2 separate regions of the Homo sapiens genome follow, and region 1 is linked to region 2. Evidence: fine-mapped expression QTL. A gene starts in region 2. The other region holds a variant in brackets. All regions are shown on one strand. Distances are between the middles of the regions.

What was found. PIP is the estimated chance that this variant, and not a neighbour inherited with it, causes the effect.
Region 1: its variant is fine-mapped to the expression of PFKFB2 in left ventricle (GTEx, PIP above 0.99). The same link has a PIP of 0.9 or more in blood mononuclear cells.

Annotation. Positions count from the first base shown.
Region 1 is chr1:207,074,697-207,080,071 of GRCh38, forward strand. It overlaps PFKFB2 (6-phosphofructo-2-kinase/fructose-2,6-biphosphatase 2), which reads left to right. Exons shown (of 15, transcript NM_006212.2): 15 at 1-3,121. Among named protein-coding and RNA genes, the nearest start is that of C4BPB, 11 kb to the right of the region's middle. The variant G/A (reference allele first, on the strand shown) is at 2,259.
Region 2 is chr1:207,050,302-207,055,649 of GRCh38, forward strand. It overlaps PFKFB2 (6-phosphofructo-2-kinase/fructose-2,6-biphosphatase 2), which reads left to right and starts at 2,974. Exons shown (of 15, transcript NM_006212.2): 1 at 2,974-3,065; 2 at 4,400-4,501. The coding sequence starts at 4,417. YOD1 (YOD1 deubiquitinase) reads right to left here and starts at 907. Exons shown (of 2, transcript NM_018566.4): 1 at 387-907. The coding sequence starts at 729. RefSeq lists enhancers at 471-1,041, 2,265-2,904.

The DNA.
Region 1 (5,375 bases), 24 kb after region 2:
CAGGGATAGGGGAAAGCTAAACAGAAGTAGAAGAAAAGGTCCTTGTCCAGAGGAAGGTTATTTTAAGAGACAGGACATGTAATTTATAACAAATGGACATTTGCAATATAGCAACAGTCTGAGTCTAGAAGTGTTCAACCATCACATCGCTTCTCCTGACTTTTCTGTTGTCCTATGGCTATGAGACTACAGGGGTTGGGGGATGGGGATGCCCCCACCACCACCAGTGTGAGAATGAGATATGGTTGGGGAGGCGTGTTTGGCACTTTTACAAGGTTGCATTGTCCACATTTGCTTGGATGGTGGCATCTGTAGCCCAAATGGGCATTCAGTCTTTTCTTCTGCTGTGAGGTAAGAGTAATTCAGACCTAATGAATGAGAAGAGGGAGCACTTTGATCCACAGACTTTGGATTAACACTGTACCCACTCTTAGCAAAAGGGGACTTCTCTAACAAGCTAGCATTGTGTTAACCTGTCATTAACCCAGCATTAGAGACAGGTCACTGGGATGTTCATTCTGGCTCTCAGCCTGCTGTTATTTCCCCACTCTCACCTGTGCTAGTTCGCTTTCTCCAGAAGAGGAGCTGAGGTGGTCTTATCCTCAGATAGGACATGAGAAATTGGAATTTGGCAAGCAAGGGCTTCAGCATCCTTTAGTTTCTAAAGCAAGATCCCTTCAGAGAAGTCTAGCAGGAAGAAGCCAGGAGAATGTAGAATGGAAAAGAGCTCTTACTCCAAATTTTAGAGAAGTTTCAGCTCTACTTCTCATCTTTTCTCTCCTGGTCTTACTTGAATGCATGTTGGTAATCTGTATACATTACTATGACTGTGTCTATCACAAGTCCTACAAAATAAAAATGGACTTAAAAGTACTCTCTGCTGAGGCTGTAAGTTTTGTTTTGTGAGAAATAGGTAAAGACATTAGCATTTAATCTACTGGAATAAGCTGGTTGCTGTGGCTTATACCTGTAGTCCCAGATACTTGGGAGGCTGAGGCAGGAGAATCACTTGAGACCAGCCTGGGCAATATAGTGAGACCTCACCTCTAAAAAAGTTTTTTATAAATTTACTTGTCTAAAGTGGGGAAAGGGAAATTATTCTGTTTTCTTATTCTTGCTTCAAGACTATGACAGATTTGAAAGAGAATTCTAAAGCAGATTTAGAGAACCTGCTTCTCTTCTTATCTCCTAATCCCTAAATTGTAATTTAGCTCTTATCTGTATTGTTGTTTTGTTTTGGTAAAGGGATGATTTTTACATTGAGTTTTAAAGTAGAATAAGAAAAGCTTCTAAAAACTTGCATTGTGCTAGGGATCTGCCCTATATCTTTGCCTCTGGTGTTTCGTTGTTGTTGTTATTGTTTGTTTGTTTCCAAAGAAGTTGGAGTTAAGGACACAATATATTTGTACCCCTAGACTGAATGGGTGAGTATTCCATATGAGGATCTGGGTAATCCTCTTTGCAACCCACATTTGGTCTTCAGAGACACTGGCATTTTGAAGAAACATATGATATAGCTGTTTGGAAATAAATTCATCTATGTTACTTTTTTTTTCTTTTTTTTTTTTTTTTATGAGCAGGAGATCTTAATTGACAGAAACTCATTGGTGGTTGGAGTGGCCAATGGGCACGGGAAAAAGTATCCAGTAATCAGAAGAATTGTATCTGGGTTATGTAATCTTATGCACATTCCATTGTCTTTGCCAAGCCCAGAAGCCATGTTGTGTTCATTGTTAAGAAATTTGATAGATTTACCCAGCTTTTCTATGTATTTTGACTTATTGAAAATATGTAACAACTGAGTCGGGTTGCAGCACTGGTGGGGTAGAATCGACTTTCCCTGAAGGTGACACAGATGTCAGAATTGTGTCCAGGGATTTAATTTAGACCCATACTGTCCAGGAGACTGTCTCTAGTTGGATCTCTGTGCTGACTGACTGACAGACAGACTTTAGTGTCTGTGTGCTGACTGACAGACTCTAGTAGTGTCTATATGTTGACCAACTGGTAGACCAGGAGGATCTGTGTGCTGATTGACTCTAGTAGGATCTGTTTGTCACTGACAGACTGTAGTAGTGTCTGTGTGCTGACTGATAGATAGACTATAGTAAAATTTGGGTGTTGCCTGACTAACGGTCTAGGGTCTGTAAGCTGACAGTCTGCCTGCTTTCTGATTGTATCCATTGAAGTGTATGTACATTATGGTAATTCTCTGTCTATTAAATGTGTCTAACAAAGGAAGGAATTAAGCACTCCAC[G/A]TGTTTTCTTTATAGGGGAGTTCTGTACACTATGATTTTAAATAGATATTTCTTATATAGTAGTGGCCAAATTCTCATTATTTTGTACAAGATAAAGGTTATGCATCACTTTTATGGTATTTTGTGAACTCAGCTAAGGGAATGCCTGTTCAGAGCCTGGAGTTGTTACCTTTACTTGAAGTCATCTCATCCAGTCCCCTGCTTTAGGGCAGGACTTCAGTTCCACTGTTCATTTCTGAAGCTTCTGTGTCCCCAGCTTACCCTGTTCTGAAATGTTGTATTCCATTGGACAGGGCTGCTATTTTTAGTCAGCCATGCATTTGGATTTTACACTTAATCTAGTAAGTAAAAATGAGAAGAAAATTTGGCATTTAAAAATTGATTTTAAGGGTTGGCAAAAGTATTTTTTCCAGTAAGCCTTTCACTGGATATCTGTGACCAATGTTTACCTACGCAATGTTTTTGTATCTGAATTGCTTATGTACGTTTTTTATTATATTGACCTAACAAGAAGATCAACTTATGCTGGTATGGTGATGGTTTTGCTATGGCAAAATCAAAGGGCTGATCATACATGGTGCCCTTTGGGAAGGGGGATGGTGTGGGGCTGAGCACCTCTGGGTTGAATGGGAATGGGTCAGATTGGGAAGCCTAGGAAGAGAGTTCTACTGTAGATTTCCTAGGCACTGCTCTGTTGAAATAGGAACATAAGTCTTTAGCAACATTCTGATTTAATCGGGTGACACTGATAACAAAGTATGCCACTCAGATCCATTTAAAGTGTGCATAACTGTATTTGAAATGTGTTTTTGTGTGCGTGTGTGTAGAATGGGTAAATAAAATTGTTGAGTAACTTGAACCTATCAGAAGGCTTCTGGGTTTTTTGTTTAGTATTTTCAGTTGTGTTTCCCATCCCTTCCCCACCCCTAAAACTTTGCCTCATGCTGCACAAGGATTCAGACTCAGACAAGCCAACAGAAGTTCGCACTGTAATTGAAGACCATGGTGTAGCCGTGGCTCTCTTCTGCCACCTTCTGGGGAAGATAGGAAGAACATTATGGAAAGCACATGAACTTCAATAGTTGTGTGTTCCTGTTGGCACTTATGCAAGAATTAAGAAACAATTACATTTCACTGCACTGTGCAGTAATTCCCATTAGCAACATGTAACTCATATTATGTATTATAAAGAAAACTTTTGGAGATTTTTTAGCACTTGGTGGACTGTTGTTCCTAAAATGTGATTTGCCCATTTCTAAAGAGATTATGGTCAAGGGTATAAAACAGCATTTAATTTTTTTTGAGACAGGAAATACAGATGGGATTGTTTTACCATTCGCATGCCTTATTCCTTGTTACCTTAACAAAGACCAGAAGCTCATTAGAAATGCAGAATCCCAGGCCCCATCCCAGACCTCCGGAGTCAGAATCCTCATTTTACTAGGACGACCAGGTGATTCATATGCACATTTAACATTTGAGAAGCACTGTTCTAGGGGAAAAATTTCCCACAAGGTAAAATGTTAGATGCCAGTTAATGGGAAGAAGTTGATCTGCTCTGATGACTGGTTTCAGAATGGACTCGTATAACTAAAATAGTAGGGACCCTCCTCAGAAGCCAAGTAGCCCCTGACTACAGTGTCACTTTATTGGCATGGTCTTTTGGCTGACATAGCCTACACGATTTCCTTCTACCAGAGGGATCCTGACTGCTCCTGCTTCATATCTTGGGTATGTAGCTTATGGTCCAGGTCTGAAAGGAGTGCCTGGTCCAATATGGTCACGAGGTCAGCTCCTCAGGGAAAGAAGACCATGACTACGCCATTCGGGTAGTCAAGGTGTGTGTGTAGGCACACCAGTGTGTTCATGCATGTGTATGGATGTGGGGATGGGGAGGTTGAGGGAGGAGGGAAGGTAGGGGAAGGATTCTGTTCTACTTTTATGTTCGCTGCTTGGCAGTGCTGTAATAGCTTTGTGTCTCTTCCTCTCTGGCTCGTAGGCAGCAGAGACCACACTGGCTGTGCGCAGACGCCCCTCCGCAGCGTCCCTCATGTTGCCTTGCTAATGATGTGGATGTTCAGGCCTCACCTCTCCAAACGACTGGGATCTACTGAAAAGCTTGGGATGTCAGCTTCACAGAGGCTAGAACAGGAAGTTAAGTGGGAACTGGACTTTGGGGGCCACCAAAACGAGGCCTGGAGAAACGTCACCATATTTCCTCCCCTCCTGCCTAATGGGAATATCAGTTACACTGAAAAATTTAACTTCCCTGTGCCTCAAAACATTTAGCAACCTGAACCAGTGACTTTTTGTCATCTCTGTGCTGAGTTTGGTCCAAGTTGGTCAATCTCATTCTGTATAGGCATTTAACATCCTACCTGTGACTGTCTGCATCCTTTGCTGGCTCTTTTTTGCCCAAAGTGCAAATGCACTTCTTCAGATTTACTTTTCAAGTGAGAAGGTAAGAGCTGGTCTCTGCCACTGTTCCAGGCGAGCAGGCTAGAGTCTAATATACTTATGCTAGCAGTTACCATTTGCCACATTGGAAGCAAGAGACAAATCACCAGGTGAATGGAGGGTCTTCTGAGAAATTCAGTCCCTAAAACATCTTCTCTGCCTTGATAGAAGAACAGTGTCAGTGGCAACCTTTTCATTTAGAGAAGTTTTTCTTGTTCCAGGCCCTTCAGGACAGGATCTGACTGCAAGACTCCCCAAAATGGGTACCCATCTTCTAAGTTCCCTTTTGTAGCTACTGTACTTTTGACTTGATGCATGTGCCTCTCATGCATCAAGATGGGGCTGATGTGGTTCTCCTGGGTGGTTGGGAATGTGGACTAGACAGAAAAGTAGAGTGCCATTTATATCACGTGAGTAAGTCAAGAAAGCTCCTTGAGAATCAGCCCGATCAGGGAGTGTTTTGGCTTCAGAACAGGTGGAAGGAGACACGCCCCTCTGTGGGCTCTGTCACCATGATACAGTCCTTGAGAGAGCTGTGGCTGTGACTTGGAGGGCAGTAGTCTCCTGATACCTGCCTCTTGGCCACTGGTCACTATTGTGGTCACTGATCTCTCATATAAAAGTGAGGGTGGCGGGGTCATGGACCAGCGCCTCAGTGCA
Region 2 (5,348 bases):
AAAAAAAAAATCCTGCACCCTTGAGATCTCATCGGTGATATAGGGAAAAAGAGACATAAGGACAGAGAAAATAGGCCCTACTTTATATTTTTGTGGACGCCGAGGGAAAACAAAATGGGATAGTTTCAAAGCCGACCAGAAAGCGGAATGGGGAAGGGGGTCTTCAAGGCTTTGGGTTCCCTTTCAACCCTGTGTCAAGACAAGGAGTTGCTAGACACTTGCCCTGGCCCCCGTCAGCATTCTCTGTTCTTTGATCTATCCTCGCCCCTGGCCTCAAAGCCCCCCCGCCGACTCACAGCCACCTTGCCTTGACTGGTGTTTTGTTCTCTCTCACGCCCCTCTCCATCCTCCCGGGACTTTCCCTGGCCCCAGCCCTGATTCCTTACCAGATTGGATGGGCAAGTCTTCCAGAATGGTATCCCCATTGCTGAGATCCAGGCACTCGGGAGGGTATCCGACGAGGATTCGCTGACCGCCGGGGGCGATCCCGGTGATGGCGGCAATTTGGCCCTGGAGTTCCCGCACCCGGGTCCGGCTGGACAGCCCCTGCAAAACATGGGTGCCGTCCTTGGCCTTGCAGCGGAGCCGCCACATCGTGTCGGTCCGGCTGCCCACAGGCCAGGCACCCGCGGGGCCAGCTTTGGTCCCGGCAGCCTGTTGGGAGACGCCGCCGGGGAAACCAGGCGCCGGGTGGACTCCAAAATGGCGACCTTTAGCGGGGCCAAACATCGCGAGAAGTTGCGGGTGGTTGCAGTTATCGCGACGCTTCGGTGCGGCTTCTGCCTTAGTACCTTAGCAAGCGCGAACTCTTTTAAAGTGACAACTGATTTTTCCCCCACCCTCAGAACGAAGATGTAAACCTCCGTATTCCTAAAGGACAACGGGTCTTGCTACCTATAGAGCGAGTGAGGTGCCCTCCGCGTGGGTAGCATATATGCTCAAGAAAAGAGGGCGGGGGAAGGAGTTCCTGAATGAAGGTCTGGAGATTGGAATGTGACCTTGCACTTAGTGAGGTCGGAAATTATTAAATTGGGGCTTCCACACTACACCCAGACTACACCAGGAGAAACAGAATCATAGTTCACAACGCAAACGAATGCCAGGAATGGTCAGTGAGTCAAAGGACCAGTCAAAAACAATCACACTTGTGACTAGACTCGTGGCTGCATTAAACATTGACTCATTGGGGTTCCAGGGGCCAAAAGACTGGCCTTTCTGCCTCCCTGGGACTGTGCTTGAAAACGTCTATTTGCCACTTCAGAAAGCACAGTATGAGGTCAGCATCTGGGCCCAGGGCAGCTGCCTCATTCAGGTGGTGGCAGTGTAAGGAGGAGTCGTGTAACGCGTGTCATCAGATTCCAGTTCAGTTCCTGGGCATACAAATATGAAGACTTCATTCCTGCCTTCATTGTAACAAGTATTCATTGCAGTTGGGAGACAGGGTGGGGTGTGAGACACACAGCCACTGAATTTCAAAGCAACGTGATAATGCTAGATTATCTGTACCTTTTCAAACGTGTATGCCTAGAACCCAGGACTGTGCCTCGCAAATAAAAAGTGTTCAACAAATACTGGCTGAATGAATAAAGACAGAGTTGTATAGACATAGAGAGGGCAACTAGAGCACTCTGGGAGTTGTAAAAAGCCTTAAAGAGGAGATAACTGTTTGAACTTTTGGAAGAATTAGTTTAATTCCCAGGCGAAGGAGGAATAAAGACATCCCTGAATTTATATCTCTCTTTTCCAAGAAATCCATACTCATTGTTCTTTATCCAGCCGGGATTCAGACAGCAAGTCCCACTTGCCAAGAGTGGGTTTATCAAGCATCAAACGGGCCCGCTGGGGCAACTATGAAAAGTGTAGTTCACTTGGTGCAAACTCACCTCCACTGTAAAAGACTTTGCTTCTGAATAAATTATATGTAATGTTTCCATCTTTTCACATCTTTCATGACTCAATTTTTTTTTGCTGGTGCAATTTTCCTCCTTGGTTCTTCAAGACGACTGCAACGGATGATACAGCCTGGGTTAGGGGGTAGGTAGGAGGGAAGGTAGGAGTGGTTAGAAGTCCACCGGGGTGGCCGGGCGCAGTGGCTCACACCTGTAATCCCAGCACTTTGGGAGGCCGAGGCGGGTGAATCACCCGAGGTCAGAAGTTCGAGACCAGCCTCATCAATATGGAGAAACCCCGTCTCTACTAAAAATACAAAATTAGCTGGGCGTGGTGGTCCATGCCTTTAATTCTAGATACTGGGAGGCAGGAGAATCGCTTGAACACGGGAGGCAAAAGTTGCGGTGCCAAGGTCGTGCCATTGCACTCCAGCCTGGGCAACAAGAGCAAAACTCCATCTCAAAAAACAAAAACCAAACCAAACCAAAACAAAAAAAACTCCAATGGGGTGTATGGGTGGGTCCAGGGAAGCTTCTGGTTCAACGATGAGAGTGGTTGATTTTCTTAGGTCACAGCGTCTGACCTGTGGAGCCGGGTATGTATACACCCTAAGGCATAATTAGCTCAAGTGTTGTGGTAGTTTATTCTAGCAAAAACATCTTTAAAGCTTACGTTCCCATTTATGGATCTAATGAGGTTCTGCTGGGATTCAGGAATGAGAGCGTTAATCTTTGCAGCATTTTCTCGTCACCCGGCACACCCGCTCTCAAGACGCCTACCGAATAGTCTACTCTCGCGAGAGTCAGAAAAAAGTCAAGCTTTTTATTAACACCGCCCCCAGCCCTATTAGTTACCAAGCAACAGTGCCACCAGGCTCCTCGGCGCTGGGAAACTCAGGAGCTTGTGATCTCTCTGGTTCCGACTTCCAGCCGCCTTCCCGAGCCAGTTAGGCGATTGCGACCCTGCCCCGCCCCCTGGGTCCTGCAGGCGCCCGATTGGTGGATGATTCTCTCCAGGTGAGGACCTACGCGCGAGGGGGCGGGGCCAGACGGGCTCACATGATTTGCCGGCGACTGTAGCGCCGGTCCCGGCCACAAGCTGTCGGCTCGGTTCGGTCGCGTTACAGGGCAGGCGCCGGGGCCAAGGCAGGGAGGGATCTTAGGAGAGATCGTAGGGTGAGCCACAGCTGCGCAGCCCCGGGTAGGGTCTAGCGGGGCGGGATGTGGGGGCTGCGTGCCCCCGGATGAAGTGCGGGGAGAGGTGCTGGTCCCCAGGCATGGCAGGCAGCGCGGACGTTCTGGGACCGGGAGCCACAGTCTGTGTTTGGGTTGGAGGATTTGTGTGGTCAGTAAAGGAATCGTGTAAGGCTCTTGAAGGCGCAGGATCTTCCGTCCTCACCAGCCCCCTGTTGTCTGAATTGGGGGCATGAGCTCAGGACTTTCCCACTCCAGTTTGAATCAGGGCTTACCCCTCTTCCTGAGGTGACCTTGGGGAAGTCATTTACCACCTCAGCGCTCCGGCGTTCTTTAGACTGAGTCCCGGGGGTAACTAGGGAGAGGGTGCGGAGCAGGGCTTGAGAATGCACTAGAGGAGAAATGACGACGTGCTAGGGCTGTCTTGGGGTCCAGTTACTGTTTTTCCTTCAGGGAATATGTTCGAGATTTTCCCACGTCCCTCACTTTTTTCTTTTCTTTCTTTCTTTTTCATTTTTCATTTTTTTTTTTTTTTTTTTTGACAGAGTCTCGCTCTGTCGCTAGGCTGGAGTGCAGTGGCGGGATCTTGGCTCACTGCAACCTCCGCCTCCCGGGTTCAAGCGATTCTCCTGCCTCAGCCTCCCGAGTAGCTGGGACTACAGGCGCGCACCACCAGGCCCGGCTAATTTTTGTATTTTTAGTAGAGACGAGGTTTCACCATGTTGGCCAGGATGGTCTCTATCTCTTGACCTCTTGATCCGCCCGCCTCAGCCTCCCCAAGTGTTGGAATTCCAGGAGTGAGCCACCGTGCCCGGCCTCACTGTTTGCAAAACTGAGTCCTACCGTTAGATTGGAGTTAATTTCCTGGTAATGTACTTCGTCTATACATAACCCACCCCACCCCAACTGCTGCCACTACTCTGCCCAGATTCTTAAAACTAGAATCTGAGGTCATGAAACCTTGAGCAGGACACTTAATTCGATGAATCTCAAATTTTCAATCTGTAAAATGAGAAGAAATAATGGTGGCAAAATCTGCCTAATTACAAGATTATTGTTAGGACTGAAGAAGATAACGTCTGTAAATGTAGACTCGTAAGTCAGAAGATAAATGTAAGGTTCTAGTGCAACTCTTTTTATAGGTGAGGAAACAGAGGGCTAGAGAAGTAGCTGCTAACTGGGAGAAACAGGACTGAACCTGCCTCTTGGCCCAGGGTGTTTTTACTTATACCACACGGATCCAATGCACTGACTTTTTTTAAGTTATGTCTTCTTTCTTCCCCTTCCCTTTTTTACATTCTACTTCTCTGTTTCAGACATCTGAAGAGCTGCCATGTCTGGGGCATCTTCCTCAGAACAGAACAACAACAGCTATGAAACCAAAACCCCAAATCTTCGAATGTCAGAGAAGAAATGTTGTGAGTTCTGGCAGAGAGGAGGGACTGCTCTCTCTCAGCATTTTATCTTGGGAATATAGTTATAATCCTGGACTCTGCTGCTTGGTGGGAGTGATAAATAATTATTTGACATGGAAATTTAATGCAAAGTCTCCAGGGTAGAATGTCCTGTCTAAAACAAGTAGACTTAGTGAAATGTCTGTTCTTGGGGCTTGACTACTGGTGTAGTCCAGCAGTTTCTTACTGCTTTCTTAAACTGAATCTCTGTCTCCTGGGATGTTTGCACACTGGCTTGCTGATGGAAGTTAGAACTAACATTATTGTACACACAATGAGTAAGGCACAGTTGCAGGTGCAGGAATTACTTGGAGCTGGTAATGTTACCAGCTTTATCTGTTGGGCTAAGTTTTGGGAGAGTGCTGCTCATTGTAGAAATTGCAGATGGGAGCCAGTGCTGCTTGGTTTCCTTCCTACAGGCCTGAGGGGAATGAGCCCTGACACTTGGCTTCTCACAGTGTCTTGGGCATCTTACTTTCTCACAGGTTTAGCCTTTGTACTTTGTAAACTATTTTCCCTATAGGTTCATTTTTTTGAGGACAGCTTTCACATGAGCATTTTCATTTCTATGCCTGTCTTTTAGATAGAAACAGCAGGAGGGTTTGCGAGGAGATGAAGCATCATTTCCTGTCCCCAAGCATCTGTATTTCTAAGCATCATAGGCTGCATAGCTTCCCAAAAGATCTGGGACTCTGTTCCCCACATATTTTGGGGAACTTCAAGGAATGCTAACTCTTGCCTCTGCTTCTGGATGGCACCATTCCTGCAGAATCCTGTCAGTCAGTTCTTCTCACTTCAGTGGTTATATATA